Homo sapiens: one gene and its partners. Changing the gene in region 7 together with the main gene of any one other region gives a genetic interaction. Each region holds a gene or a part of one and is shown on either strand. Other genes may lie near its edges. The genes, in order: RBM17, SNRPD3, HUS1, COPS5, EIF3H, CARS1 and XRN2.

Region 1 (3,665 bases), on a different chromosome or scaffold from region 7:
TTACCACCCGTCCACCAAAATACCTCCCATTCAAGTCAACAACCGCTGAAAGGCAAACAAAAGACAGTTAATACAGGTATCCTATAAGATAAAGGTTTAACTTTAATTAAACAGTAACTTTACTTGTAAAGATTAAGGCTGTAAATTCAACTTTTTTATTCTTTAATATTTAGCTGTACCACTAACCTTTAATTGCTGATTCAACTCTCTCAAATTCTAAAAATATCCGTACTGCTTCATCATCAGGGGCACCAGGAATCTGGAAGAAAATGAGAGCGTGATGAGTAAAGGCATTTGAGATTGCATTGAATGAGTTTTCTCTTTTAAATGATTTCTCAGAGTGGATATTCTAATTATCATCATATACAGTCAAGTAGTTGTCAAATACCAAGGAAATAAGTATAATTTGTTCATCATCAAAAACGTACTGAATGCCTGTTTTTATGACAGGCATTGTTAGGTGCCAGGAACACAGGGCTAGGCAGTCTCTGACCTCATAAAGGCCCTGTGCCAGCTGATGACGTAAACAAATAATTATGTGGTCAACAAACAGCAACAGGATAAAGAAACAGAGGAAGCAGAGCTTTCAGATTAAAAAGGCTGGTGCCCTAGTGGCCTTTCACATCAGGTCTCATTTTGACTAGCTCTGTCTAGCTTTCCTAGCCCTCTGTAATTCCACCCACCTAAGCACTTCTGCTAATCCCCAACAGGCCCATCCATTCCATTTTGGTAGTCCTGATCTTCACTGTCTCCTACGAGCCATTATCCCAATCAGAATACCCTTCCCTGCAAATCCCACCTGTTCGTTTCAAAGCGCAGCCCATATCTGCTATTGCTCACAAGGCAGTCTATTTTTTCACTGATCTAATCCTTTTCTCAACTCCTGAACTTAGTCAATACTACCTAGTCTAGTAACTGAATATCTTTCAGTTATTTTATGTGTTTCTTCAACTGAACACACCACTGAGAGTACAGAGCATGCTTCCTGTAATCCAAGTGCTCTCCGCACAGTGCAGTGCATGTGAGAGGCACTAAATACTCACCAAATGACTGAAACCAAAGGCATGTCTAAGGAACTAAACTACTGAGCACGCTAGAATCAAGGTCTTCAGTCATCATACTGATCCTCAATCATGAAGCATTCCTGTTTCTTCATCAAATAAAACTTGAAATCATTGTCTTTATGTTTAAAACTGTAATAATTGAGCAAGAGAAGTACAAATAACCAACGCCTGTCACCTTCTGCAGTAAGAATGTTACTTATAGCATACCCTGTCCTGTTTGTAGAAAATGTTTTGTAATGTGCCAATTACAACTTGTGTTATAAACATCAAAAGAAAACACTCTTACTTCAAATATCACACATTTTCCAACTTTGCCATATTTTTCACATTCTTCCTTGGTTTCAACTTCCAAGTCTTCATCCACCTCTCCCGCACCAACCATGTTCTTTAAACACAAAAATAAACAAATTCAAGTACCAAGTATAACTTACAAACACCTAGCAGAGGTATATAAATATGACTTAGTGATGGTAAATGTTCTCAATCCCAAACGACATAATGAAAAATTTCATCCCCAAAGTACCCAAAAGTTAGTATTTCTTAAAACACTAAAACATATATTAAGCCTGTAAAGAGTTACAAAAGCATCTATGCAAGCACCAAAATGTATAAACTATCTGAAGCTCTAGCAATTTCAAATATTTAATTACTCACTGCAGTCTTAAACACTGTACTTAGCAAAGAGACTTACACATTAGTGAAAAATCTAAAATCAGCCTTACGTGGGATCTGCCCAAAGTATTATTTGCAAAAGTATCATTTTCAGTTTTAACTTTTAGGGGGAGCAGGGTAGGCTGGGGTGACACACACAAATCTAGGCAGGCAGAGAGCTTGCTTTCCTCAGCTTCTTACCCTTAGTAAGACCACTTTAGTAGGACACTTAAGTATTTCAGTCAGCGGATTTGAATCTGACTTCTTGGATGCATCTGTATCAAAACATACCATTAGATGTGTTACAGAACTGAGCAGCATATCATTAGATGTGTTACAGAACTGAGTCCTACTTACAATAATTAATTTAATTTCAATAGCGATCCCCACCATTTATGTCCTAGGCATCTACACAATTGGTCTCTGAGCGAAAACACAGCCTTATCTGCAATAAAAGCCTCTGCTTTGCTTTGGCATGTTTTTACAATAGCATCTGGATGTTTTGAGCCTCCACCATTACTTGCAATTTTTGCTCATCTCACTTCCCAAAGGGCTGACAGGGCATGTGAGTGATAATTCCTATAGGTGAGTTGACTTGGAGCAAACGTTCAAGGTCACGGGCCCAGGGGAATATGCAGTTACTAATCCAGCCACCGGCTGCCTTACTTCAGATAACCTCACAAGTCGGGACAACTGTTGGTTTCTGGCACTCACCTGTCAGGCTCGTGATGTATCCTAAGCTGTGCATGAACGGGGCTGCCAGAAAAGTTTTCTTCTTTCTTTAGCAAAGGAAGTTCAGCTAGGCTGACTCAAACTTAATTCCCTGATTAAAATGCTAACATATGTTTGTCTCTTTCCTGAATTCCCTCAACACAGAACAGACTGTAAAAATTAAATGAAAATAAAACACCAACTAGGCATCATTTACCAAGAGACTGCAACATAACATCAGATCTCGCAAAGCAAACAATCTGTAAGAGAATCAGAAATCACATCTATACTGAAAGGGCAAAAGGGAAAAGTAGAGACGACCTCTGAGATGGAGATAGCAGGTATATTCACTGCCACACTATATGGCTCTGTCCTTCATGCTCTAAACACATAACCAAGATTTCTTCCTGAGGACTACTCATTTTCTGCCCAAGTCTCTCACCATCTTTTCCTCCACAAGCCTTCATCTCTCTACGTCTGTTCTGAAAAAATAAAGATGAGCCTCAGGATTCCTGGTTTCACAAAACGGAAGTGGCAGTGCATCATATGAACAGGACGGCCTGTGTTCTAGTGATGGCAGGGCCAGCCCTCTCCCTCTGGCCACACGCCTCATTGTCCCCCTGCTGACACATGAGGATCAAGACTGGCCATGTCTGATATGGATGGGGCCAGTCCTTTCCCTCTAGTCACACGCTTCCCTGGGGACACACCTTTCTCTGTGGCGTCGCCCACGATGATCTTGCCGCCACGCTTGCTGGTCTTCTCCACTGACAAGGCAGTGCTCAGGCCCTGCTCATGCTTCCCCAGACCCTGGCCCTCCCGGAAGCCGTACTTCTGCATGATCTTGTGCGCCACCGTGCCCCTGGCAGGAGAAGAAGGGAAAGGACTCTTAGCCTTGACATCGTCAACTGGAGATAGGTTGCATTTTTCCATCACAACAACCTCCTTCTGGAGAGAGTGCATGCTCCACAGGGGCTTCAACAAAGTCACTCATTAACTAGGAGTGGGCTATTAGATGGAAGCTGTGGGGATGTGCAGCATGAAAGAAATAGAAAAAGCTATGAATAAAATCCAGAACATCCTGTTGTCTTGGAGGGGAAATGTCAGTTTCTCTGGTGGAGTCTCCTCAGTGCCCTGCTAGGAAACACAAGACCTTTTGTGTGCTCCGGACCTGCACTGCCACATAGCTTATGACCACAGTTTATTAAAAAGTGGCTATCAAAAAGTAAGTATGAAGTT
Region 2 (4,708 bases), on a different chromosome or scaffold from region 7:
TAGGCCTATTTTGTGTCTTCTACAGAGTCATGAGTGTGGCACAGTCCCCAAAACACGTTTTTTGTTTGTTTGGTTTGTTTTTTGTTTTTTGAGACGGCGTCTTGCTCTGTTGCCCAGGCTGGAATACAGTGGCGTGATTTTGGCTCACTGCAACCTCTACCTCCCGGGTTCAAGTGATTCTCCTGCCTCAGCCTCCCGAGTAGGTGGGACTACAGGCACCTGCCACCACACCCGGCTAATTTTTGTATTTTTAGTAGAGCCAGGGTTTCACCGTGTTTGCCAGACTGGTCTCAGGTGATCCACCCACCTCGGCCTCCCAAAGTGCTGGGATTACAGGCATGAGCCACCGCGCCCAGCCCCAAAACACATTTTAATTGTCAGTCAGATTCAGGTGAGCCTGAGTTGTATCCAGTTTCTGTCTTGGGTAGTCTGACCATAAACCTGGCGTTCATTTGTGGCACTAGAGGTTATGGTATTCTTCAGGGGAAGAAAAGGATTGGTAAGGACTTGGGAACTGGATGAAAATTTAATAACAGGCTGGGAGTGAGGAGCCTGGAGCAGAAGGTTTATGAGAAACTGGAGCCCTGTTGCCCCTGAAGGTAGAACAGGGATAGTGGGTAGAAGCTCTAGAAACCATTCCTCTAGAAACTGCTCATATACAACAGGGGCGGCCCCAGAGCATAGTTTTGTTTGTTTTATTTTTGAGAGGATCTTGCTCTGTGGCCCAGGCTAGGGTGCAGTGGCTCCATCACAGCTCCCTGCAGCCTCGACCTCCCAGAACCAAGTGATCCTTTCACCTCAGCTTCCCGAGTAGCTGGACTACAGGCACATGCCACCACACCCAGCTAATTTTTGTAGAGATGAGGTCTCACTGTGTTGCCCAGGCTGGTCTCAAACTCCTGGGCTCAAGTGATCCTCCCACCTTGACCTCCCAAAGTGTTGATATTACAGACATGAGCCACCACACCTGGCCCATAGTTGTTCTTTTCTGAGTGTTCAAGCAGAGGCTGGGTGGCCAGTTAGCACTTGAGGAAAAGAATGAATGAGTATAAGATGGCAGCTAGCCAGACAGAAATCTGCAGAGACAGCACATCTTTCTACAATAAGGGCTGACCCATTCTAAATAAATTATAGTTCTCTCTCTTCAGAAGGTTCATACAATAAGCTGCTTTTTCTGTAAATGTGGTGCTTGTTGAGGTTGATGCTGGCAGATTGGTATCACCCTCCCATGCCAAGCTGGTCTCACCTTCAGGCTCCCCATTTGTCCATCCTGCAGTCTATCCTTGTTGCCACATTTATCTTTCCTGAGTGCTGCCTTAACCCTATTGATCTTTCCTCTATCGACAAACTTGACTGACTCCTTTATCTGAAGTAACGACCCCGTCCAGTGTCATTATTCGACTGCTCTGGTCCTCACATCCTGTAGGCTCCTGCCCAAGTGCCTGCTCTTTTCCTTGTGCAAGCTCTTGCCTCATAACCCTCCAGTAATTTCAGGCCCTTTTTACAGGCCTTGTGGTACCACCTCCATTTCTCAGTCCCTAGTCACTCAACCTAGAGGGTTCTGTCTCACCTTCTAGAGTATGCACTCTGGAGGGTCAGAACCACATCTGGTATATACTTGTGACCTTCATGGTGCCTTTGAAATCTGAGTGCCAGGCAGTGCAGGGGAAGACAGTTTGGACCAGCAGTTTGAAGCTGTTTTCGTTAGGGTTTAGCACCTTCAAGAGCTCTTCACATCTTTGCTCAGCAGGCAGTGCAGCACAGCCAGGGCTCTGAAGCTAGGCCAGCTGGTTCGAATCTGGAGTTCCCTGCATTCCAGCTGTTTGACCTGGGATAACTGCTTTGGTTTTTTTAACATGTAAAGATGGGAGCACTCGGCTGGGCGCAGTGGCTCACACCTGTAATCCCAACACTTTGGGAGGCTGAAGCGGGCAGATCACCTGAGGTCAGGAGTTCGAGACCAGCCTGTCCAACCTGGTGAAACCCCACCTCTACTAAAAATACAAAATTAGCCGGGCATGGTGGCGCATGCCTGTAATCCCAGCTACTCAGGAGGCTGAGGCAGGAGAATCGCTTGAACCCGGGAGGCAGAGGTCACGGTTAGCCGAGATTGCACCATTGCACTTCAGCCTGGGCAACAAGAGTGAAACTCCATCTCAAAAAAAAAAGGGGGGGAGCACTCATACCCACGCTGAAGGTGTTGTGAGGACTGTTTAGGTAAAGTGCTCAGTGCAGTCCCTGGTGTACACAGTTAGTACCGATGATTGCTGGGTAATTCACCAGCTTTGTCACAATGTCAGTCTGCTTTTCTGGACTTCCCCCTCCCACCAGTCAAGGCCCTCCCCACCGCTGGTGCTGTTGACCGTTAACTTATTAGCTGGTGATTTCCTTCCAGATGTCCAACATCACAGTCACATACAGAGATGGCCGAGTGGCACAGCTGGAGCAGGTATACATCCGTGGCAGCAAAATCCGCTTTCTGATTTTGCCTGACATGCTGAAGAACGCACCCATGTTAAAGAGCATGAAAAATAAAAACCAAGGCTCAGGGGCTGGCCGAGGAAAAGCTGCTATTCTCAAGGCCCAAGGTAGGTGCTTTTCATGCACAGGTTTTAAAATATAGGTTTGTCTTGTGTCTTGTAGAAAGGGGCCCTATTACTGCCTGGAGACAGAGAGGGTTTGACCTCTGCTCTCTCCACACCCACCACCCACTGCCACCCCTTCCCCTTGCAGCGTGGAGTGATCCTGTGAGGCCATTATTTTATTTTTTTGAGACAGAGTCTCGCTTTGTCACCCAGGCTGGAGTGCGATGGTGTGATCTCAGCTCACTGCAACCTCTGCCTCCCAGGTTCAAGCAATTCTCCTGCCTCAGCCTTTCAAGTAGCTGAGATTACAGTGCGCACTGCCCTGCCTAGCTAATTTTTTTATTTTTAATTTATTTTTATTTTTATTTTATTTTTAATTTTTTTTAATTTTTTTATTTTTTTGAGATGGAGTCTCGCTCTGTCGCCCAGGCTGGAGTGCAGTGGCGTGATCTCGGCTCACTGCAACCTCCGCCTCCCGGGTTCAAGCAGTTCTCTGCCTCAGACTCCTAAGTAGCTGGGATTACAGGCACCCGCCACTGCGCCGGGCTACTTTTTGTATTTTTAGTAGAAACGGGGTTTCACCACCTTGGCTAGGCTGGTCTTGAACTCATGACCTTGTGATCCACCTGCCTCAGCCTCCCAAAGTGCTGGGATTACAGGCGTGAGCCACTGCGCCCGGCTTATTTTTATTTTATTTATTTATTTTTGTATTTTTAGTAGAGATGGGATTTCACCATGTTGGTCAGGCTGGTCTTGAAGTCCTGACCTCACATGATCCACCTGCCTCGGCCCCCTGAAATGCTGGGATTACCAGTGTGAGCCACCGCACCTGGAGAGGCCCATCTTTTCTAGAAGTTCTGTGTGAGAGGTGTGGGATCGCTTGCCCTTGTCTAGTTTGCCGAGCAGACACAGCCCGGAGCAGATGAGCTGACTCGAGTGTGAGGGCAGCATTTCCTAGCGAGACTGGGTCTTATGGATGGACACCAGCATGTACTTAGGGAGGTCTGATAGTGGAGCTCCGTTTTCAGAAATAAAGCCACCTTTTAGTACATTCCAAAAGTGGGACTGTCCTTTTCGCAGTCCCCTAGTCTGGTCTTGCTTCTTGGTTAGCCTAATTTGGTTTTATATTTAGGTTCATGAAAGTTCTGTCATGTTGATTAGACAACAAAGTAATTGTGGCCCTTGGAAACTGTCTTAGTGTTGGTAAAAAAGGTTTGCAGCCAAGGAAGGCACTGGATTCTTCATTGGTATCTTTAGCTGCTGTACATGTTTTATATGTGTGTGAGGAAAAAAGTCAAACTGTGTTTTTCCTCTGCTCTCACAACACAACAATCAACAAAGACTTCTGTGACCAAGCAAGCAGTCAGTTCTGCAGTAGACACCAGCTGGGTGTCCTTCAGTTCTGACACTATCTACCTGGAGATAGCCTGAAAAACCACAGGTTGAGGGCTCGGTCCCACAAGACAGCCCCTGCACCCCCCACTATTATTCATAAGCACAGGCCTCCAGAACATCTGAATGGCTTCAAGCCAGGGTTCTCACGTCTCACTCCTTGGGTTCGATTAATTTGCTGGAGTAGCTCACACAACTCGGGAATCACATACTTAAATTTACTGGTTTATAACAGGATATTTTATAGGCTACAAATAAACAGCCACATGAAGAGATGCATAGGGTGAGATCTGGAAGGGTCGCAAGCACAAGAGCTTCTAGCCCCATGGAGTTTCCTCCCGGCACATGGATGAGTTCTTGTTCACCTTCCTGTCAGGCTGCGCATGATCAGCTGTCCCGAAGCTCCCCTAACCCTGCCCTCTTGGGCCTTTTATGGAGACTTTATTGGATAGTCATGATTAAAGGATGGACAACCATGTGGAAATGCCATTAGACAAAATGGGTGTGATCTAACACTAATAGACGGGGTTGGGAAACCCCGCGAGGCCTGTCCAGATTCTTTTTGGCCTCTCTCTGCAGCATTTGTTCCTCCAGGGTATAGGGCAGGACCTTTCTCTGGAGTGAGGTCTTATGACCCACAATCAGATTAGGGTCCTGCCTTGGGCAGGTGAAAGGAGGGCAGGAGAAGTTTCAAGAGAGAGATTCTGTCTCCTGAGTCCTGCTTCTGAGGC
Region 3 (4,708 bases), on a different chromosome or scaffold from region 7:
ATATTACAGGCAGTAGAATTAAGGAAAATGGGTAGACTTAACACACTAAAAATGCCCACCTTCCCATTAGAGATGCCCAGTTACTTCCTTTCATTAAATGCGAGGTGTGACTGATGGGGTGGGTTGTATGTGACTCATGCAGGAGCAGAAAAAGAAGCAAGAACTGGAGGGAATTGACATCATGTTCTAAGACATTGCTTCTAAGTTCTACCATGCGTGTGAATCCCCTGGAATCTGGTTAAAGTGCAGGTTCTGATTTGGGAGGTCTGAGCTGGAGCCTGAGGCTCTGTTTCTGACCAGCTCCTGGGAGATGTCGATGCTGCCTGTCTTCAGACCACATCATGTAGCAGTACTTTGTGATGTGTGCCTGTATTACTCCGTTTTCACGCTGCTAAAAAGATATTACCTGAGACCAGGTAATTTATAAACAAAAGAGGTTTAATTGACTCACAGTCCTGTATAGCTGAGGAGGCCTCAGGAAACTTACAGTCATGACAGAAGGCAAAGGGGAAGCAAGGCACGTCTTAACATGGCAGCTGGAGAGAGAAGAACACAGGAAAAACTGCCATTTTTAAAACCATCAGATCTCATGAGAACTCCCTCACTATCAAGAGAACAGCATGGGAAAAGCTGCCCCCATGATCCAGTCACCTACCACCAGGCCCCTTCTCAGCACTTGGGGATTACAATTCGAGATGAGATTTGGGTGGGGTTGCTGAGCCAAAACAAACCACATCATTGCCATACTATATTGTACTTCAAATGTTATCTGAGAAACGGCTCTGCAGGGTCACCTAATGATAGAAACCAGAGTCTATGTTTAGGAGTCATGATATGGAAGAGGGGAGTCATTGGAGCCACATACCTGGGTTCAGCTCCAGGCTGCGCTGTGCAGTGAGTACCCTAGTGCTGGATACTACCCCAAATGGGGATAACAGTGCAGCTATGACAGGGGCTTCGTCAGTTTTTAAAAATTTAGAGATAATTTTTACTAGGTGCCCAGTATAGTCAGCATTCTATAAACAATAGTTGACTATTTTAAGGAAATCATTGAAAGATCTTACCCTGATACTTAAGAAATCAAGTGTGTTGTTGTGTATAATATCCCAAATAACTGAATCTTAAAATAGACATGAGTGACCAGTGTTCAGAGAATTAGTTGTTTGTTAGTTTCTTCAGTAAGTATTGACTTAAGGCCACCATGTGCTAGGCACCAGGTGTTAATGGTTAGGAGGGAGTTGGAATCTAATGTTCTGTTACTGAGATTCTTAGGAATTTGAAGAAAACACAAGAGAACATTTAAGCCTGAAGTGCATCTAGGCCCATTGCAAGTTGCATTTTTAAATAAGTATTTATTTATTTATATCTAAAACCATTGCTTTTCAAAACAATGGGAATTTACAGATCTTGGGTGTGTGGTTGTTTGGAACAAATGAGCTAAGGTCATGTGTTAGCCTTAGCCCCACTAAGCAGTCTAGCATATTCACAAAGATTGTTTTATATATTTTATTTCAGTCAACTATTGTTCCAGATTGTAGGAAAACGGGTTAGGAAATATAACAATATATTTTTTTGGATTAATGAAAGAAAAGGGTTGAAAATGAGTATTTCTCATTCAAAGTAGATTATACAACAGGTAAGTTTGGGGCACTATTTTTCTATTAATGTGAAAAGCTCAGAAATAAGAGCTCACCCAAATTAGAAAAACTTTGTTTCTGGAATGAAAACTATTCAGAGTTCACCAATTTTAAGGAATAAGAACAAGGAACACTAAATTGTATTCAGTAAACATGAACACTGATACAGAGCCGTGCAGACAGAGTGCCTTCTCTGTTTTCTTTCTGTGACACTGTGAGGATGGAATGGCCCTAAATAAGACCAGTTGCTAGGTGGCACTTTTCTAGTACTAGATGGCAAAATGCTATCCAGCAGACTACACACTGGCTTTCCAGAGACCTCCTAGGCTTTAACATTGGGCAGATATCAACATCAAAAAGAGAAATAACAGGTACTGGTTCTTTTAGGAGGAAATTTCATTGTAGGTGCGGGAGTGGACCAGGATAGGTTAGCAAAACCTCAAACCATACTGTGGCATATGCTTCACTTCTAGGTTCCATCCAATTAAAAGAACTGATTGGTTGTTGGGGTGGGTAGAGGAGCTTCAAAGGAAAGGAGTCCCTTGTGACCTGTGGAGACAGTCCCCGGGCAGCAAGAGCAGGAGTAGAAGAGGGGTGCCCGATGGTATATGAGGGGATGGCAGAAGTCTGGTAGCCTGGGCGTGTGGAGTTTGGCTCAGCCATCCTCAGTCCTGGTAACCCAACAGCAGCCCCAGACCCTTCTGGATTTGGACATTTCATTTTCCAACATGTGAGTTTATTTTCTAAATAAATGGCTATGTTCTCATGAGATTCTGAAGGCCTTATAGTCATATTAAATGTGTGTTTATGACAAATGGTTGATTTATATTTTATAAAAATAAGACACTGATTTCCACATTCTTCTCATTTTCCCCCTTCCTGTTTTGTAATGGTTATATTATGTCTACATCATCAGAGCATAAAATTTTATTACTACACGTTATTCTGTCCTCTTCATTCCTGTTGTTTAGTTTTGGTTCTAAAGGTCAAAATAAGGCTCACACTGTTTATGCTGTAACTTCTCCAATGATTTTTTTGGTTATTAAAAGCCTATTCTCTAGCATATCACTCAAGAAGGACTCACAGGAATAGGATTTCATTGGTTATCATGTGTTTATAATGTCAGTTTGGCTCACTGCACTGCATTGTCTGCTGGTGTATATTATTGCTATCAAAAAGAATGACTCCATTCTGATTTTGTTTCACAGCTTGGATTTATTCATTTGAAAGTGGGGACTAAATACCCTGGGGATTTTTCCCATTTTTCTTTCAATCCAATTGTCTTGACCATCCGGGGTCAGTTTTCCCAGGTGTGTGGTGTGTCCTTTCAATATGTGGGCCGAACTCTTCATTCACTTCAGGAAAGTTTTGAGCTGTAGTTGATAGCATTTCTTTTCCAGTGCTTTGTTTTTCTTCTGGGACTCAGAGGGCTTGGATCTTCTCCACTGTCTTTATTATTTTCTGTCAGATCCTTTTAACTCTTTGTTTCTGTTTGGTAAATTTTATCTTTCTCCTTTCCATCCCAGTTTCTCTTACTATTCTCTCTGTGGTGCCTATTTGCTCTAGTCTTCCTTCTAAACTAGTTTCTGTTTCTGAAATTTTTCCTTATGTTTCTAATTACTTCCTGTGCTGTCAGCTGTGTTTTATGTGCGTGCTCTCTGGTCATCTCATGTCTGAGCTTCCCTAATTCTGATTTATGTTGTTGTGTCATAGCGTCTATTATTGTTCATTTCTCTTTTTTTTTTTTTTTTTTTTTTGAGACAGAGTCTCGCTCTTTCACCCAGGCTGGAGTGCAGTGGCGCAATCTCGGCTCACTGCAAGTTCCGCCTCCCGGGTTCATGCCATTCTCCTGCCTCAGCCTCCCGAGTAGCTGGGACTACAGGCGCCCGCCACCACGCCCGGCTAATTTTTTGTATTTTTAGTAGAGACGGGGTTTCACCGTGTTAGCCAGGATGGTCTTGATCTCCTGACCTCGTGATCCGCCCGCCTCGGCCTCCCAAAGTGCTGGGATTACAAGCGAGAGCCACCGCGCCCGGCTGGTTTTTCTGGTTCTTTTAGGAGGAAGTTTCATTGTAGGAGTGAAAGTGGACCAAAATAGTTTTCTAATTTAATGACTCTAGAATTCTCTATTCTTTGTAACCACAAAATATTAAAACATGCATCCTCACCACATCCCCAGGACTTTCTGAGATCTGTCCCTCTTTTTCCTTCATTTAAAGTTTCATTCCCTTTTTTTTGCCCAAGGTGCCCATTCTGCTTAGTTGAGGCTCTTACTTCCCGTGGTTCCTTCTCAGTGCAGGACTCTCTCCTGCTGTGAGGGAGTTCTCATCAGCTCCACCCAGCCCTCCCTAGAGCCCTGCCCTTGTGCTGCTGTAGTCTCCTGGCAAGTCCTCTCGGAGTTCCACCTGTTTTCACATCTTCACTGAGTTCTTCATTCCGGGAGGCAGGCAGGGGGACTTCCCCTTTGAGATTTTTGGGAGATTTCTGAGTTCTTGGCTCTTGGGCCTTATCTTCTCACTTTCCCTGATAGCACGGGGGTCTCAGTGTGCTCTGAGGTGTTTTGAGGTTTTGTAGGGTACTTTGTCATCTGGTTGTGTGAAAGCTGTTGCCCATGGAGTTTTTTTCCTTTTGGCTTCCTTTTCTAAGACTATGTAAAATACTCAATTTGCAGGTTATTGAAGCAAACCTAGATGGAGAATTGAATTTGAAAATAGAAACTGAATTAGTATGTGTTACAACTCATTTTAAAGATCTTGGAAATCCTCCATTAGGTAAGTTTTCTAGTGGGTTATATTTTGCTTTGGATAAGTTAATTGTTTCAGATAACCTACCTGTTGAGGTCTCTTCATGTAAAAAGGTTGAAATTCAGTTGACTTTGTTTCATGCTTGGGTGAAGAACAAAGGAATTGAGACTGGACTATGTATCCCTGTGGTGTAGTGGGGCAGTTAGCCACCAGGGGGAGAAGCTGTGCCACCAAGTAGCTGACAGATCTGTGCAGGGTCTCCATCCTCTGTAGAATTCGGATCAAGTTACATAACCTCCAAGATCCCTTCCAGCTATTCAATTCCTG
Region 4 (4,708 bases), on a different chromosome or scaffold from region 7:
GCCAAGGCGGGCAGATCACCTGAGGTTGGGAGTTCAAGACCAGCCTGACCAACATTGTGAAACCCCATCTCTACCAAAAATACAAAAATTAGCTGGGCATGGTGGAGGGAGCCTGTAGTCCCAGCTACTCGGGAGGCTGAGGCAGGAGAATCGCTTGAACCCGGGAAGCAGAGGTTGTGGTGAGCTGAGATTGTGCCATTGCACTCCAGCCTGGGTGACCAAGCAAGACTCTGTCTCAAAAAAAAAAAAAAAATTCTTAACCTTTTGTGTAACATCCTTCACCACCTAGACCCCAGCATAGCTTTCTAGCTTCCCCTCACATAATTCTTCTCTTGCTAAATTTTCCAGCTAAACCCATTGCCTTATTATCTCTTACATGTCTTTCCTTTTTGTGTGTTGATGCTCTCTGCCTAATGCCCTCCTTGCTCTCCACATATCCATACCATAGACTCAAAAATGTTTACCCTACACCTTGCCTTTTCCCTGAGGCTTCTCAGGCAGTTCTAGCTTGAGCTCCTCTATATGAAGAATACTTATTATCTCTAACCCTTAGTTGGTAGGTGATTCATTTTATATAGCACTGTAGCATCACTTATTGTTATTCAATGTATATCATTATATTTAATTTTGATGTGGGTTTAGACCACATCCCCCATATAAATGTTGAGTTCCTTAAGGTAAAGATGTCTCATGCTTTTTTATATCCACTGATACACAGAAGCATGTGTAAGTTTAAGATGTAAGTTTACATCTTAAAAATATATGTATTTTTCAGACATTTAACTAGATTTTTCCTTACTATGCCCTGATGATAAATTAGGCACCTTTGAAAGTGGGAGCAATTATTTTAGATGCCTTAAGGACCTACCTTAAAATTTGCTTTTCAAAAAGCAGTAGGTCCTAACTGGGGAATTAGGAAGGGAAGAATGGAATCCACATGTCATTTTTATTATTTTAAAGAGGCTAACAAAAATTATAGTTGACCCTAGAGAGGCAGCTTATTAAGTTTATGTGCTGTTGGCTTGAATTTATGAACTCAGTAACAGGAATAAACTTGTCATTCAGAAGTTTTGACTGGTTGTTAATAACATTTGGGGAATTTCTGGGCTCTACAGAAAAAAAGGAATAAAACAAGAAGTTTAGTAGGAGATTTGGATCCACAACCCTTGAAGTGTGAGGAAACCATGGTTAGCTATTGCCTTATTGGAATAAAGACTAAAATGTGAATATTTGAGAATAAAGTGTAACTCACTTAAATCTGGCCATAAGTTTTATGTGACGTAGTTGAATTTTTTTTTTTACTTACTAAATTTTATGCTTTTATTTCATAGATATTATGCCTTAGAAGTCTCATATTTCAAATCCTCTTTGGATCGCAAATTGCTTGAGCTGTTGTGGAATAAATACTGGGTGAATACGTTGAGTTCTTCTAGCTTGCTTACTGTAAGTACTATACTTGTAAAGAATGCATTTGAATTTTATCTAAGCTTCATAGCCGTTTAATATCTGAAACACTGTTTCACAGAAAGGCTATACCTGACTTGGCCAAGACACCAGGGCTAGGGTGGGATTCTGCACCACCACAGCTGGATTAGGATTCTAGGCCAATTCAGGATCTGTGTCATGACCCACAGAGACCAAGTCTAAGTAGCAAACAGAGTGTCCAGATCAGGGTGAGATCTGCCCCTGCCATAAGGAGATTTATGGATTAAAAAAATACACATATTGATTTTTGTGTATCAAGTGTCTCAGCTTGGACTCTGGTTACAAGTAACAGGATACCTAATGAAACGAGCTTAAACAAGAAAGGGAATTGTGTAAGTTGCAAAGTTGAGGAATAGGGCTTAACTCAGGCACAGCTAAGTTTGCATTCAACCAATATTATGAGGTCTTTTTTTTTTTTTTCTTTCTCTTAGCATTGATTTCATCTTAGTTAACGCTAGTTTCAGGCTTCATGTGAAAGCAAGACGGCAGCTTTAGCTTTAGACCTCCAAGTCTCTCAGCTTCATGTTCAAAAAGAAGGTCAAGATACACACACACACACACACACACACACACTCTCACACTCACATATTTCCAGGTCAAGATACACACACACACACACACACACACACTCACACTCACATATTTCCGGGCAAAACTTCATTGTGTCTGACTGGCTTTACTTAATCACATGCCCATGTTTAGGCCTGGTGTGGGCCAACTGAATAAGCTTGATGAGCGGCTTGCGCCACGGCAAGTGCTTTACTGCTGAGCCGCAGCGTAGAAAACTCCTTCAGGAGCTCAAGGACTAAAAATGGGGAGGAGAGGTTCCCAGAGTGAATCAGAAGAGCATTACTTTAAAGCAGTAGATACTAGGAGAAAAAAAAAGAGGCCGGGCGCGGTGGCTTACGCCTGTAATCCCAGCACTTTGGGAGGCCGAGGCGGGCGGATCATGAGGTCAGGAGATCGAGACCATCCTGGCTAACACGGTGAAACCCCGTCTCTACTAAAAATACAAAAAATTAGCCGGGCGAGGTGGTGGGCGCCTGTAGTCCCAGCTGCGCGGGAGGCTGAGGCAGGAGAATGGCATGAGCCCCGGGGGGCAGAGCCTGCAGTGAGCCGAGATCGCGCTACTGCACTCCAGCCTAGGTGAAAGAGTGAGACTCCGTCTCAAAAAAAAAAAAAAAAAGAGAGTATCACTGAATTTTTTCTGATAATATCATAAAAACTTAACATATTTGGTAGGATATTATTTAACAAACTTCTCTATATTTAGAACTTAGGAACAATTTTTTTATTTTTCTAAAAAAGTAGGCCATTTCATATACTGCAGTATATATAGTGGTTAGAACCACAGGATTTAGAATTAAATAAACTGGGTTTGGAGAATATGAGCTACAGCAGCAGGAGTCATAGCAGGACCGGCACTTAGAAGTTTCTTATGCTCTTTGATGGAGTATTGGTTGAAAGGAGTACAGCTGAAACTGTAACCAAAGGAGGCATTACGCTTCCAGAAAAATCTCAAGGTAAAGCATTGCAAGCAACAGTAGTTGTTGGATTGAGCTTTCAAGGAAAAGGTGGATTCAACCAGTTAATGTGAAAGTTAGAGATAAAGAATTATTCTCCCAGAATATGGAGGCACAAAAGTAAAGAACTACTTTGCAACTCTTCAGGTTTATTCAGTTGACCTGGAAGGCCAAGGATTTTTTTTTTTTCTTTTTCTTTTCGAGACAGGGTCTCTGTCTCTGTTGTCCAGGGTATTGTGGTGGCACGATCTCAGCTCACTGCAGCCTCAACTTCCCAGGCTTGAGCGATCCTTCTGCCTCAGCCTCCCAAGTAGCTGGGACTACAAGGGTGAGCCACCACACCTGGCTAATTTTTGTATCTTTTTGTGGAGACAGGGTTTTGCCACGTTGCCCAAGCTGGCGTTGAACTCCTGGGTTTGAGCAATCTGCCCGCCTTGGCCTCCCAAAGTGCCATTACAGGCCGTGAGCCACCATGCCCAGCCAGATTATTTCTTATTTAGAGATGCTGACATTCTTAGAAAGTATGTAGACTGAAGTAAATCACTATTGAAATGCCATCAACATGAAGCTGCTCATTGCACTTAAGTTCTGAAATATTTAATTATGTAAATAATTGCCATGTCTCTTCTATAATAAACAAATGATATCTATACTAAAAAATAAAACTGACTTTGAAAACAACTCTGCCACTTTACTAGTTCTGAATGACTTTCAGAAAGTTATTTAATGTGACTAAGCATTTCTTTGTTGTAAAATGTTGATATGCTACATACATCATTAAGTACTCTGAGAAAATTAAATGGGCTACTTTATATAAAGCAATTAGCAAAGTGTCTGGCATATAATAAAGCCTCAATTAATGATTTTTTTTAATTTGGTGCATTATATTCATGGGAAAAGACCTCACTTAAGCCTATTATTTACTGGAATTTTTTTTTTTTTTTTTTTTGAGATGGAGTCTCACTCTGTCACCCCGGCTGGAGTGCAGTGGTGCAATCTCAGCTCACTGCAACCTCCACCCCTCCAGGTTTAAGCAGTTATCTGCCTCAGCCTCCGGAGTAGCTGGGATTACAGGTGCGTGCCACCACGCCCGGCTAATTTTTTGTATTTTTAGTAGAGATGGGGTTTCACCATCTTGGCCAGGCTGGTCTTGAACTCCTGACCTCGTGATCCACCCGCCTCAGCCTCCCAAAGTGCTGGGATTACAGGCGTGAGCCACCGCGCCCGGCTGGAATTTTTTTTAGGCTAGTCAAGTGAAGCAGTGTATTTACTGTTATTTTAAATACAACTCTGACAAGCTTTCTGTTCTTTTTTTCCTTTTTTCCTTTTATTTTATTTTATATTTTATTTTATTATTTTATTTTACTTTATTTATTTTATTATTTTATTTTATTTTGAGACAGGGTCTCACTCTGTTGCCCAGGCTGAAGTGCAGTGGTGCAATCACATCTCACTATAGCCTGGACCTCCTGGACTCAGGTGATTTTCCCACCTCGGCCTCCTGACTACAGGATGTACACCACCATGCCTGACTAATTTTTTATATTTTTTCATAGAGACAGGGTTTTGCCATGTTGTCCAGGCTGGTCTGGAGCTTCTGGGCACAAGCCTTCTGCCCACCTTGGCCTCCCAAAGTGCTGGGATTACAGGCATGAGCCACGGCGCCCAGTATCTGTTCTTATTTCTTATCCTTAGTAGTC
Region 5 (4,708 bases), on a different chromosome or scaffold from region 7:
CTGCCATCCTTAACTCTTCTAAATTTTAGATTTATTGACTTATAATGTTATTTATTTGGCTATTTTAGATTGGTATTTATATTTTACCCTATAATACAGAGAATACTTGTCATAGAAGTTAAATCCGTTCTTGCTTTTAGATTTTTGGGCAAAGATAGGTTTTAATTTTTTTTTTTTAAAGCCAGACACTTTAAAAAGTAGCATTGTGTTCATTAGAGATGGCGTATAGTCTGCTTTGCTTTTTCAAATAGTTTGCACTGAATAATGAACAATAGTAGAAAACTGTTCCCTGCAGGGTAATTTCAGCAGACAGGACATCTGTTTACTATCTTGCAGGTTGGGATTCCTTGAAGATCTGCCCAACTTGAGACTGTGTAAACTTCAGAAATCTGGGAAACAGTTTGAGAGACAACTGACCTAATCAGAGAACAATACTTACTGTTTAGGGCACATAGAGTAGTTTAAGCATTTACACCCAGAACATGACAAAGTTTCAGAAGGTGTAGAAGAATTTGCTAAGTTGGGTTTCTACTGGCAAGTTTGCTTCTGTCCCTTGAGGCATAATTCATGGAAGAATCCTCATTTACCCACTAATTTATAGGGTAAACAAATCTAGTCAGCATCGGTTCTTAACAGTCTTAGATAACGGGGTCAGATGCTAAGGTGTAAGTCTTACTGTGCTGCAGAAAACATGAATGTTTCAAGATGGGTTGCTGGTATTACCTTCCCTCTTGTTTATATGCTGTAGAGATTGTTCCAACTAGGGCTTGAATTCCTCTTATTAGGGTGATATTTATGCTTTTATAAACAACATGTTCACTTTTGGGTCTGTATTTCTCAGTGCCTTCACTTTTCAGCAACCCACGAAGTCTTAAAACAGAGGAAAGGAAATTGGGGTTTGACCAGCAGTGTATTGTAGTCACCTGAGGAGTTACAACAAAACAAAAACAAAGGAAAGCTAGGCCATACAACTTCATTAGAAATTAGAACTAAATAGGATGTTAGAGTAAGTTGGAGAACTAAAAACAGACACCACCTACCAAACCCAGTATAGGAACCCAGCCGGTATCAGTTAGCTGAATTTCAGGAGTGTGCTCACGCATTAGTATACTTTAAAGCTCCCCAGATGGCTCTAATGTGTATCCAGAATGAGGACCCCTCTTCATTTATCTAAAAAAAGCTCTTTAGGTGATTTTGCTCAGCTGGGAATGAGTAAATAGGGCTCCTGAGTGTATATGTATCACAAATGTGGGGTCATTTGTGATACATATAAGCAAAATATAACAGGAGAGTGTTTTTGTTTTGAAGAATGGTTAAGCTTTCCATGTGTCTTTTTCAGCCTTGCTGTTATCAACATATTTGGTGCACTCAGTTTGGTATCACTCATTTATTGTGAAGTAATTAGAAGTGCTTTGGACTCAGAAGTCAGATCTCACTTCCCTGGCTAAATTCCCTGTCAGCTTATCTTTGTTTCCTTATGTAAAATGGGAAAATAATATAACTGACTTCACAGGGTGGTTGTAAGGATTAAATGAGTCCTTGCACGTAAGACGGTGGAGTGCTTGACATATCATAAGTGATAAGTGTTTGCCATTCATTCCTTCAGCAAAATATATTTTGAGTATCTTTTATGTGCCAGTATCTGTGTTAGGTGTTGAAGATGTGGTGAGTAAATCATCCTTTCATTTTTATGGGAACATTCACGAGGGGAAACAATGAGCACAACATGGATTCTGTCTCTATTAAAAGATACTTCGAATCTATGAAACTTTGAAATATATATACATGGCAAATTCTTGGTTATCTATGTAGAATAGCAGAAGTATGTATGTCATTTAGTTATATTTAATCAGGAATTTCCTTTCCTTTTAACATTTAAATCAGTGTCTGCAACCTTTCTGGCACCAGGGACTGGTTTCGTGAAAGACAGTTTTTCCACGTGGGGGGTTGCGGGGATGTGAGAGGATGGTTTCTGGATGACACTGTTCCACTTCAGATTGTCAGGCATTAGATTCTTCAAAGGAGCATGCAACCTAGCTCCCTTGTATGTGCAGTTCACAGTAAAGGTTTGTGCTCCTATGAGAATCAGTGCCACTGGTCACCTGACAGGAGACAGAGCTTAGGCAGTTTACCTCCTGCTGTGCAGCCAGGTTGCTATCAGGCCACAGAGCAGTTCCCGAGCAGTACCTGTCCGTGGCCTTGGGGTTGGGAACCCCTGCTCCAAATGAATCCTACTGTAAGGCATTTCCATGACATTACTTCTTGAACTAAAGAACTGAGGTTTTAGTGTGTATGTAGGAAATAGGACGATCATAAAATGTCACAATGAAGAATGAGCTAGCTTAGTTTTGATAATAGTGATTTTTTCCTGAGTACTTTATCAGATTATATTAAAATGACAAGATCATAAATATTAAAGTTGGAAATTATTTTAGTGATTGAGTCTTTCCTGAATGCTTTCTTTTTTGGACAGCCTTCAGTACTAGAGAGAATTTATCCTTAGAGTTGAAATCTTCTTTCCAGAAACTGTCACCTGTGGTTCTTAGGTTTTGCCTTCAAAGTAAGACTAATCCTCTAAGCAGCCAAAGAACTCTTCAGTATTTGGAAAGTGCTTTTTTTGAGTGTCCCTTGCCTAGAGAGAGATTTGCATTAATTTTACTGGTTCTCATCACAGGATTTTAAGCTTTCTCTCTTGTAATTACCCTTTTCTGTGGATTCTTACTCATACTGATTGTTTTTTGTGCTTTTCTCATTTCTTAGTTTGGTACTGTTACTGGTAAATTTTCTCTTGGGTCATTGTAAAGAACTGAGGATAACAGTTCAGTGATGTCGAAAGAGCGAGATAATTATTTCTTTTACTTGGAGCGCTGTATTCTATTGATACTACATAAAATTGCATTGGCTGTTTGGCAAGCATGTCAAGCCTGGTGTGCTGTTTGGTTACATTATCCTTACTGATCCCTTTAGAATTCACTTTTGTTAGAGTTAAGACAGTTTTCAATATAGTTTGAACTGTAATAACTTGTTTTAAAATATATTAATTTTTTTATTGCTATTTTCTTCATAACTGGAAATGAGGTTATTTTCATCTGGCTTCTTTATGAAACTGTGCTGGTCCTAGTCACCAGTATTCCCTTTTGCATATGTAGGAATCAGCTGTTTAGGAATCACTTCTAGAATTTGTCTGAAGAACTATGTTAAGCTCATATATCTTCTAATATCTCTTGTTTACTTTGATTTCAGTAGTGGTTTAGCAATCTCATTAGTAGGGGTAAGTATAAAGGAATCTAGGTAACCTAGGTGAATTGGTAGTTGTGTTTGTAATAACTCTTTATCAGTTTAGTTTATCCCGTCTTGATCACCTGTATTTGTTCTATTTTTTAAGTGTAGAAATAATTTTTCTTGGCAGAGAGGTATGTTGAATAAGCATTAAATAGTTATTGACAAATATCAACAATATTGGTCATTTATTGAGCACTTACTATGTGGCAGACTCTGTGCAGAGAACTCTATACTGTGTCATTTTTAGTAGTGTCAGTAATGCTATGAAATAGTGCTATTTTGCAAATTAGAATCTAAGGCTTGAGAAGATTAAATAGCTTTCTCAAGGTCACAGCTAGTAAATGCTGGAGCTGGAACTCATACCCATACTTGTATGACTCATCAAGTCCATTTTTGTGCCTTTCAAGAAGTGGAGAGGTCTTTCATACAGGAATGTGTAGGTTGTGCACTTTCATTTCGTAGTATTGAAGGTCTGCCAATCTTATTAGTTGGTGTTACTCCATTTTGAGCTCTTTTCCCTGCTGACTGCTTGCTCTCCTTTGGAGTTCTGTATCTTACTGGTGTAGTCTTTTTGGGTCTATTCATAACACAGTTTTTACTGCATATCTGTTGTCTATTACTACCTGGTTATTTTAACTATCAATTTAGTTACTAATATGAAAATCATCTCCCAGGTTTAAAAACTAGGTTTAAAAACCTACTTTTAAACCTAAAACTAGGTTTAAACTAGGTTTAAATCTTGGCTCTACTACTTCCTAGATGTGTGACCTTTAGCCATTTACTTAATTTCTCTCTGCCTCAGTTTTCTTATCTATAAAATGAGTATTAACAGTACCTTTCTCCTAAGGTGGTTGTGAGAATTACATGATAGGGTAATACATGTGAAATAATTAGATTATTGCCTGTCATACAATGTTTAGTAAATGTAATGTGCTGTTATTAACTGGTCATTAGTTTCTTTTTTTCTTTCATAATTGGTTTATTGGTCGTGTTGATGATCAGTACACAGACATTTCAATTTGTACACAATTCTTAACATATATACTGAAAATCTAAAAAGCCATGTGTTGTAATTTTTAAAAAGTTATTTCAGTGACTTTCCAGCTTAAAATTGGGAAGCAAATTTTCCATAAGAGGCTATCAAGTACCAGTATCTTCACATGTTAGTAAGCTGTTACATAGATCTCACCAATTCACAGTATAATACCATATAGACTACATACTCAAATTTTCAATCTTCCACAGCACATTAACAAAGTTCATTAGAAAAGCAGGACTACCACGACCAAAGATGTTACAGTGCACAGAATTATGACAGGGAGAGCCATGATCAAAGAGTGTTTTTCTTTAGGAAACAATTCTACTAAAAAATAATGTGGGAATGAAAGTAATTTAAAATGTTCAAGACATTAAATGCAGGACTGCA
Region 6 (3,705 bases), on a different chromosome or scaffold from region 7:
TTCACTGTGTTGACCAGGCTAGTGTCGAACTCCTGACCTCAAGTAATCTGCCCACCTCGGCCTCCTAAAGTGGCATGAGCCACATGCCCAGCCTTAGTTTCAGTTTTTATGGATACATAATAGTTGTACATATTTATGGGCTATGTGTGATATTTGGATACATGCGTATGAGGTACTATGATCAAATCTAGGTAACTGAGATGTCCATCACCTCAAGCATTTATCATTTCTTTGTGTTACGAACCCTCCAATTCCACTCTTCCACTCTGCCCCTGGTAATTTTAAATCTCAGATGTCATGTCCTATTTTCCTACTCCTGGCTGGCAAGACCTTCCTACCTTCTCGTTACAAAATGTTCTCGCCAGGTGTGGTGGCTCATACCTGTATCCTAGCACTTTGGGAGGCTGAGGTGGGTGGATTACCTGAGCTCAGGAGTTCGAGACCAGCCTAGGCAACATGGTGAAACCCCGTCTCCACTAAAATACAAAACATTAGCTGGGTGTGGGCTCCTTGGGCAGCTGAGACACGAGAATTGCTTGAACCCGATAGGCAAAGGTTGCAGTGAACTGAGATCGTGCCACTGCACTCCAGCCTGGATGACAGAGCAAGACTCTGTCTCAAAAAAAAAAAAAAAAAAATCACACACACACAAACCAAAATGTTCTCCTGTGCTTCACTGCTGCTATGGAGGTTTTTGTTTGTTTTTCTCCTGTGGGCCCTCGCTCTGACTGGGCAGCACCGCATGGTCTGGGCAGGGCAGGGCAGGGCAGGGCTGGCCCCGCAGTGGGGACGGCCCACAGAGCCCAGACTCTTCTCACACGCAGTTTATTTTGCAGGACTGCCCACAGTGGTGAAACTGGTAGACAGAAACACCTTATTAAAAGAGAGAGAAGAAAAGAGACGGGTGAGTAAAGTGAAAATGACTTAAGCGTGATATTTGTTGAAAATGTAAAAACCATTGCGATTATTACATAGTTTACTTTTTAAGCATTGATGTTTACACTTTTATTAAAATCCCAGTATTTATAAATGTCAGAAAGAAAAATTAACTAGTATCTTCTAATGAAGGACCTCTTTTAAAAAGATTATTCCCTCAGTTTAAGTGAAAACCAGTCACTTTTGGCAAACTGTGAAGCTGACTTTTTTTTTTTTTTTTTTTTTTGAGACGGAGTCTCACTCTGTTGCTCAGACTGGAGTGCAGTGGCACGATCTTGGCTCACTGCAACCTCCACTTCCCTGGTTCAAGGGATTCTCCTGCCTCAGCCTCCCAAGTAGCTGGGACTACAGGCACGCACCACTGTGCCCAGCTAATTTTTGTATTTTTTTAGTAGAGATGGGGTTTCACCATGTTGGTCAGGCTGGTCTCAATCTCCTGACCTCGTGATCCACCCACCTTGGCCTCCCAAAGTGCTGGGATTACAGGCTTGAGCCACCACGCCTGGCCCGAAGCTGACATGTTAAGATCCCAGTCCCACCGTGCCCTCACCTGAGTGGCGCGTGTCACTGATGCATCTCCACCTCCTATTCCCAGCATACTCCCCACCTGCACCCCACAACGCCCCCAGGATCAGGGATGGCCCAAGTTCCTCGGTGCCCAATAGGACAGAAGAACAGGAACAAAAACGCAATGTCAGAATCTCTGGGCACAGCGCATGGGGTACCCTGGGATGCAGGCAGCAGGATGAGAGGCACCTGGGCCCCCAGTGCACACCATGGGAGGTGGGCCATGGGGGCTGTTGCCACCAGCAGGTGGGTCCCCAAGAGGCTTAAAGCAGGAGACCACCGTGGAGGGCGAGTTTGGATGCCACAGCTCTCAGGAAGGAGGCTCTGGGAGGAACTGAGGAAGGAGAATCGACAGGGTGGTTGATTGATAGATGGGATGTACAAGGTCAGGGAAGGCATCTATGCCTAGCCCTGCACTGGCCCAAGGCACGAGGGGAGAGCTCATGCCAGATCCAAGTGTGGGTGGCTGGAGTTTGCAGTGCTTTGGAGGAATAACGAACTGGAACTCTGGGGAAAGCTCTAGACAGTGGTGAGTGGTCTGCAGGTCCATCCTGGTTGGCAGGTTGGGAAGAGCTGGGCTTGCCCTGTGAGGTTGGCTGGTGTGACTGCCTCATCAGGGCCCCTCCCCATTCCATCACAGTCACTCACCTAGCCTTGGGTCTCGCCTGCCGTGCTGTGCTGTGAGGTGGCCTGGTGCTGGCTGTGCAGACGCCCTGGCTTGCTGCACTCCCTGGCAGAGTGCTCAGAAGCAGGAAACAGACAAGAGGAGCGCCAGGGTGGCCCGGCCAGAGCCTCACAGGCCTTGCACTCTTTGTGCTGGCCTTTCCACTGGCCACCTTGGCTGTGGCCTGTGACTTCTAGTAGCTCCTGTTTCCCAACCAAGGGACTCTTACCTCACCAAGCTGCTGCAAGAAGGCATCCCCAGGCCCGAGGCACCATGGGGGAGGGGTCCTGCCTCTCCCTGTACCATTCCCACCAGCACATAAACACATACTAACTTTTAAAGGGAAAAAGCAGAAATCCTGAGCACTGTGTCTCTGGTTCCTCCAAGCTCAGTGCCCAGCTCCTCCCCCACCTCAGCCCCTTTCCCTCGGCCAGCCCTGCTCTCCCTCCATCTATCTCGAAAGAGCTCGATCCTGTTGGCCCCAGCCCCATCCTGAGTCTCTGAGACCTTTGTGCCTTCCTGGTTTCTTTTCCCTAGCTCTGTGTGTGGCGCCTCCCCAGGAGACCTTATCTGGTCCTGCGGCTTCTCCACCATCTATCTTGTAGCCGGTGGCCCAAAAACAGTTTGCCCAGCTGCCTACCTGATAGCTCCACTGGGCCAGGAAGCCTCTGATATCTAGGCTGTCCAAAGTAAATGTGATTTTCAACTCCCCAAACTTGTTCCTCCTTCCTGCCATGGAGGGCGTGCCTACCTGATAGCTCCACTGGGCTGGGAAGCATCTGAAACCTAGGCTGTCCAAAGGAAAGGTGAAAATGTGATTTTCAACTCCCCAAACTTGCTCCTTTTCCGTCAGTGGAGGGCATGTCTGTTCGTGCAATGGCTCAGGCCAGAACCTCCCAAAGCAACCGAGGGCTTCCCTCACCGGCACCCAGCCTGCTGGCTCCACTAATAAGCTCTCCCTGCAGCATCAGACTGTCCTCGCCCCTGCCCGGGTGCTGCCTGCTGGTTGGAGTGGGCTCTGGTCTCCTCACCTAGCCCCCAAGGCTGCCCTCCGCCCACCATCCCCATCCTGCCCTGGCGCTCTTGCTCCTTCCCAGGTACCCCAAGACCCACTCAGGATAACCCTCACAGTGCTGTCCTGGTCATTGCCTTACAGATCCTCTCTCCTTGGGCCAGGCTCACCATGCTGGTCCATTTCTTCATGTTAGTGGTGCCTGGATCTTTTAGCATTGGTTCTGTTTGTCTGCCTGCTGCATACCTTTGCATCTAGGGCAGGGCCAGGCACCCAGGGGTGCCGCTGAGGATCCCCAAAGGGAATGGAAGAGGGTCGGTGTGCTGCCCGGCACATGGGCTTGTCTCCCCACAGTGGGGAGGGCCTGGTCAGAGTTCAGCCCTCCATGCCAGGCCCTAGGAGAGGGGCTTGTTTGGCTAGACCTCTCACTCCGAGAGACCCAGCAGCCTGAGGCAGCCCTGTCTCATCTGGCTCTGTATTGACCCTCCAGGTTGAAGAGGAGAAGAGGAAGAAGAAAGAGGAGGCG
Region 7 (4,708 bases):
GAAAGCAGCCAGCCAGAAACGACCATATTCTATAGATTCCTCTCATGTGAAAGTCCAGACTAGGAAAAATCTATATAGACATAAAGTAGATTAGTGGTTGCTTAAGGCTGGGAGAAAAGGAGACAGCAGTTAGAGGGACAACAGCTAAAGGGTACAAGTTTCTTTTCAAGGTGATTAAAATGTTCTAAAATTGACTGTGGTGATGGATGCACACATTTGTGAAAATACTAAAAATCACTGAGTTGTACACTTTAAATGGGTGAATTTTATTGTATGCAAATCATATCTCAACAAAGCTGTTTAAAGAATGTGGTAACCAGCTCCAAAGAAATAATCATATTAGAGAAAATAGAATGTAGGGTCAAGGATAAATGTCCACCTTATGATTTTTCTCCCTTCCCTCAGAGTGATGCCTATCACAAAAGTAGTACTCAATGAAATGGAAGAGAGAAAAGAGGCAGTGGAGGAAACCTGGATTTCATTACATGAGAACAGTAAGACCACACTGTACACTACAACGCAGTATTACCAAGAGTTAGACTCAAAAACATCTCTGCCTTTACTTGGACACATAAACTACTAAACATTAATTTACCAAATAAAATTCTGAAATCAGATTTTCCAAATAGTTGCCATTTAGCAAATGCTTCTGTAACAGGATTGTAACTGGTATTAATACATCTAATCCACACAACCACCCTCTGTGATACATACATAGCCAATCTTCATTATTCATGAATCCCATATTTGCAAATATGTCTACTCACTGAAATTTATTTTTAACCCCAAAATTAATAATCATGGTACTTTCGCAGTCATTTGTGGACATGCACAGAGCAGCGAAAAATTGAGTCACCCAACATACACATTCCCAGCTGGCAACAAATGAGGACACGCAGCCTTCTGCTTTCAGCCCTTGCACAGAGATGACCAGAGGGGGAAACTGTAGGGAGCAGCACAGTGTAGCGTAGTGTGTTAACTTACACCAAATTTGGCCTGAGGATGGCTCCTTACTGATTCTTCACTTGAAGAACTGCAATATTACTTACATAAAGTCCACTAAGGAAAAGCCTAACTTAGGAGCATACTTCTGTAACAAAAAGCAGAGTCTCCGCCAATCGCAGCAGTCGAGCTTCAGTCAATCACAGGTTGCCAACTTATCTGGCCATGTTTAAATAAGCCAAAAGATTAAGCTGTTTCTGTACCTCACTTCTGTTTTCAAGAGCTCCCCAAACCTCTTCTGGTTCTGAGGGCCACTCAACTGGCAAACTGTTCATTGCTCAATTGAACTGTGTTATTTAATTTATCTAGGGCCCAGGCATGGTGGCTCACGCCTCTAATCCCAGCACTTTGGGAGGCTGAGGCAGGCGGATCGCCTGAGGTCAGGAGTTCAAGACCAGCTTAGCCAACGTGGTGAAACCTCTACTAAAAATACAAAAATTAGCCAGGCGTCATGGTGCACACTGGTTGTCCCAGTTATTTGGGAGGCTGAGGAAGAATGGCTTGAACCCAGGAGGCAGAGGTTGCAGTGAGCAGAGATTGCACCACTGCACTCCAGCCTGGGCAACAGAGCAAGACTCTGTCTTCAAAAAAAAAAAAAAAAAAAAAAAATCTTGGGGTTTGGTTTTAACAAGAAGCTCTGGCTCTCTAGAGTTTAGGCATTTAAGTCATTTTCCGATGGTCAGAAAGCTGATAAATGGAGGACTGCATGAGCCAAGCAGTTAAAGTATATGAAGTGAAGAAGCTGATGACTGAATCAGTAAAGAGTTCTTAATAAGTGAGCAAAGGGAATAAAATGAAATCATAAAAACACAACCTAAGGCCGGGCACGGTGGCTCACACCTGTAATTCCAGGAAGTCAGGAGATAGAGACCATCCTGGCTAACACGGTGAAACCCTGTCTCTACTAAAAAAAAATAAATAAATACAAAAACTTAGCTGGGCATGGTGGCAGGCGCCTGTAGTCCCAGCTACTCGGGAGGCTGAGGCAGGAGAATGGCGTGAGCCTGGGAGGCAGAGCTTGCAGTGAGCTGAGATCGCGCCACTGCACTCCAGCCTGGGCAACACAGTGAAACTCCTCTCAAAAAGACAAAAAAAAACACAACCTAAAAGAAGGCATAAGACTTAAGAAACTGAAACAATGAACAGATGAGACAGAAAACAAATAGTAAGATGACAGATTTAAATCTAACCATATCAATAATCTTTTTTTGTCTTTTGAGACAGAGGCTCGCTCTGTCGCCCAGGCTGGAGTGCAGTGGAACAATCTCAGCTCACTACAATCTCAGTATCCCAGGATCAAGTGATTTTGTGCCTCAGCCTCCTGAGTAGCTGGGTTTATAGGTGTTGTACCACTATGCCCAGCTAATTTTTTTTTGTTACTTTTTTAGTAGAGACGAGGTTTCACCATGTTGTCCAGGCTGCTCTCGAACTCCTGGCCTCAAATGATCCATCTTCCTTGGCCTCCCAAAGTGCTGGGATTGCAGGCGTGAGCCAACATGCCTGGCCATCAATAATCATTTTAAATATAAATGTTCTAAATGGCCCAATTACAAAGCAGACTAGAAAAACAGTTTGGTGGTTCCTCAAAATGCTAAACACAGAATTACATGATCCAATGATTCCACTCACAGGTACATACTCAAAAGAACTGAAAGCAGGGACTAAAAAAGATACTTGTACACCAATGTGCATAGCAGTGTTATTCATAATAGACTAAAGGTAGAACCAGCCAAAGTGTCCAGAGTGTGACATATACTCCCATATACAATGGGAGTATCATTCAGCTTTAAAAAGGAATGAAATTCTGAGACATGCAACAACATGGACAAACCTTGAAAACACTATGTTAAGAGAAATAAGCCAGACACAAAAGGAAAAATATTATGATTTCATTTACATAAGGTAACTAGAATAGGCAAATTTATAAAGATAGAAAGTGGGGAGGGGGACAAGGAGTTACTGTTTAACAGGTAGCGTTTCTGTTTGGGATGATAAAATTGTTCTGGAAATAGACATTGGTGACAGTTGCACAACAATTTGAACATACTTGGTTCCATTGAATTGTACACTTTAAAACAGTCAAAATGGTAATTTTATGTATGTTTTATCCCAATAAAAAGAGGGGGCAGAGATTCTCAAACTGTATAAAAAAGCCAGACCCGGACAGGCGCAGTGGCTCACGCCTGTAATCCCAGCACTCTGGGAGGCAGAGGCGGGCAGATCACGAGGTCAGGAGATCAAGACCATCCTGGCTAACACAGTGAATGAAACCCCATCTCTACTAAAAAAAAACAAAAAAATTTGCCGGGCGTGGTGGCGGGCGCCTGTAGTCCCAGCTACTCGGAAGGCTGAGACAGGAGAATGGCATGAAACCGGGTGGCGGAGCTTGCAGTGAGCCGAGATCGCGCCACTACACTCCAGCCTGGGCGACACAGCAAGACTCCATCTCAAAAAAAATAAAAAATAAAAAATAAAAATAAAAAAAAGCCAGACCCAATTGTTATGTTACCTACAAAAACGTCCACTTTAAACATAAAGATGCAAACAGGCTAAAATAAAAGAATAGAAAAAAACACACCATGCTGACACTAGTCAGAATAACTGGCTGTATTAATGACAAATAAAATAGATTTCTGAGCAAATATTAACCAAGAATAATGAAGGTCATTTCATAATAAGTGTATTATCCACCAAAAAACTAGAACAATGTTAAGCATTTATGCACCTAATAAAAGAGCTTCAAAATACACAACCAAAAACCAATAGAACTGAAAGGAGAAACAGAAAAATCCAAAAGTTATAGTCAAAATTTCACAGCAGCAGAAAATGTATCCTTTTCAAATACACATAAAACATTTATAGAGACCATATTCTGAACCAGTCTGATAAACTTCAACAGACCTCAAATTAAATATGATCTCTGATAAGGGAATTAAATTAAAAATCACGAACAGGAAAAAATACCTGGAAAATCTCCCATGTGTGTGAAAATTAAGTCACACTCTTAAATAACCAGCGGGCCAAAGGGAGTTTTAGAACATATTTTTAAGTGGATGAAAATGAAAATACAACATGTTAATATTTGTGGCACACTGTTTAAACAATATCTAGAAGGCAATTTATGGCACTCAAGATCTATATCAGAGAGGAAGAAATGTCTCAAAACAATGACCTCAGCTTCTACCTTAATAAACAAGGAAGAGAAAAAACAAGTTAAACCCAAAGTAAGCATAACAAATACATATAAGAGCAGAATCAAAGAAATAGAAAACAGAAAAACAATAAAGAAAATCAATGAAACCAAAAGCTAGTTATCTGAGAACAGTGTAGCCAGACTGATAATGGGACAAAACAAAGAAAGTAGAATTACAAGTATCAGGAATGAAAGAGGTAACATCACTACAGATTCTAACAATATTAAAAGGATAATAACAAGTTAACAGGAAGAAAAAAGAAAACAAAAGAGAAGTAAAAACAGGAGTGAAAACATTTTAATAACAAAAAAAAAAGGATAGTAAGAAAATACTATGAACAACTTTATGTCAGCCAATTCAACTACTTAGATCAGGGGTGTCCAATCTTTTGGCTTCCCTGGGCCACTTTGGAAGAAGAATTGTCTTGGGCCACTAATACTAACGACAGCTGATGAGCTGAAAAAAAAAGAAAAGGTCTGTGCATAAATCTCATGATGTTTTAAGAAAGTTTA

The links.
Region 1: changes in XRN2 (region 7) and RBM17 together harm fitness more than expected from each alone (negative genetic interaction), as found in Homo sapiens cells (one large-scale study listed by BioGRID).
Region 2: changes in XRN2 (region 7) and SNRPD3 together harm fitness less than expected from each alone (positive genetic interaction), as found in Homo sapiens cells (one large-scale study listed by BioGRID).
Region 3: changes in XRN2 (region 7) and HUS1 together harm fitness less than expected from each alone (positive genetic interaction), as found in Homo sapiens cells (one large-scale study listed by BioGRID).
Region 4: changes in XRN2 (region 7) and COPS5 together harm fitness more than expected from each alone (negative genetic interaction), as found in Homo sapiens cells (one large-scale study listed by BioGRID).
Region 5: changes in XRN2 (region 7) and EIF3H together harm fitness less than expected from each alone (positive genetic interaction), as found in Homo sapiens cells (one large-scale study listed by BioGRID).
Region 6: changes in XRN2 (region 7) and CARS1 together harm fitness more than expected from each alone (negative genetic interaction), as found in Homo sapiens cells (one large-scale study listed by BioGRID).

Annotation. Positions count from the first base shown.
Region 1 is NC_000010.11:6,111,833-6,115,497, reverse strand, and holds part of RBM17 (splicing factor 45), read right to left. Parts: intron 3,289-3,665; coding exon 3,137-3,288; intron 1,991-3,136; coding exon 1,917-1,990; intron 1,450-1,916; coding exon 1,351-1,449; intron 260-1,350; coding exon 187-259; intron 46-186; coding exon 1-45. UniProt on the Homo sapiens protein: Splice factor that binds to the single-stranded 3'AG at the exon/intron border and promotes its utilization in the second catalytic step. Involved in the regulation of alternative splicing and the utilization of cryptic splice sites.
Region 2 is NC_000022.11:24,565,589-24,570,296, forward strand, and holds part of SNRPD3 (small nuclear ribonucleoprotein Sm D3), read left to right. Parts: intron 1-2,395; coding exon 2,396-2,588; intron 2,589-4,708. UniProt on the Homo sapiens protein: Plays a role in pre-mRNA splicing as a core component of the spliceosomal U1, U2, U4 and U5 small nuclear ribonucleoproteins (snRNPs), the building blocks of the spliceosome.
Region 3 is NC_000007.14:47,968,919-47,973,626, reverse strand, and holds part of HUS1 (checkpoint protein HUS1), read left to right. Parts: intron 1-4,308; coding exon 4,309-4,408; intron 4,409-4,708. UniProt on the Homo sapiens protein: Component of the 9-1-1 cell-cycle checkpoint response complex that plays a major role in DNA repair. The 9-1-1 complex is recruited to DNA lesion upon damage by the RAD17-replication factor C (RFC) clamp loader complex.
Region 4 is NC_000008.11:67,047,965-67,052,672, reverse strand, and holds part of COPS5 (COP9 signalosome complex subunit 5), read left to right. Parts: intron 1-1,331; coding exon 1,332-1,443; intron 1,444-4,708. UniProt on the Homo sapiens protein: Probable protease subunit of the COP9 signalosome complex (CSN), a complex involved in various cellular and developmental processes.
Region 5 is NC_000008.11:116,727,691-116,732,398, reverse strand, and holds part of EIF3H (eukaryotic translation initiation factor 3 subunit H), read left to right. Parts: intron 1-4,708.
Region 6 is NC_000011.10:3,002,565-3,006,269, reverse strand, and holds part of CARS1 (cysteine--tRNA ligase, cytoplasmic), read left to right. Parts: intron 1-836; coding exon 837-904; intron 905-3,669; coding exon 3,670-3,705. UniProt on the Homo sapiens protein: Catalyzes the ATP-dependent ligation of cysteine to tRNA(Cys).
Region 7 is NC_000020.11:21,309,506-21,314,213, reverse strand, and holds part of XRN2 (5'-3' exoribonuclease 2), read right to left. Parts: intron 1-4,708. UniProt on the Homo sapiens protein: Possesses 5'->3' exoribonuclease activity. May promote the termination of transcription by RNA polymerase II.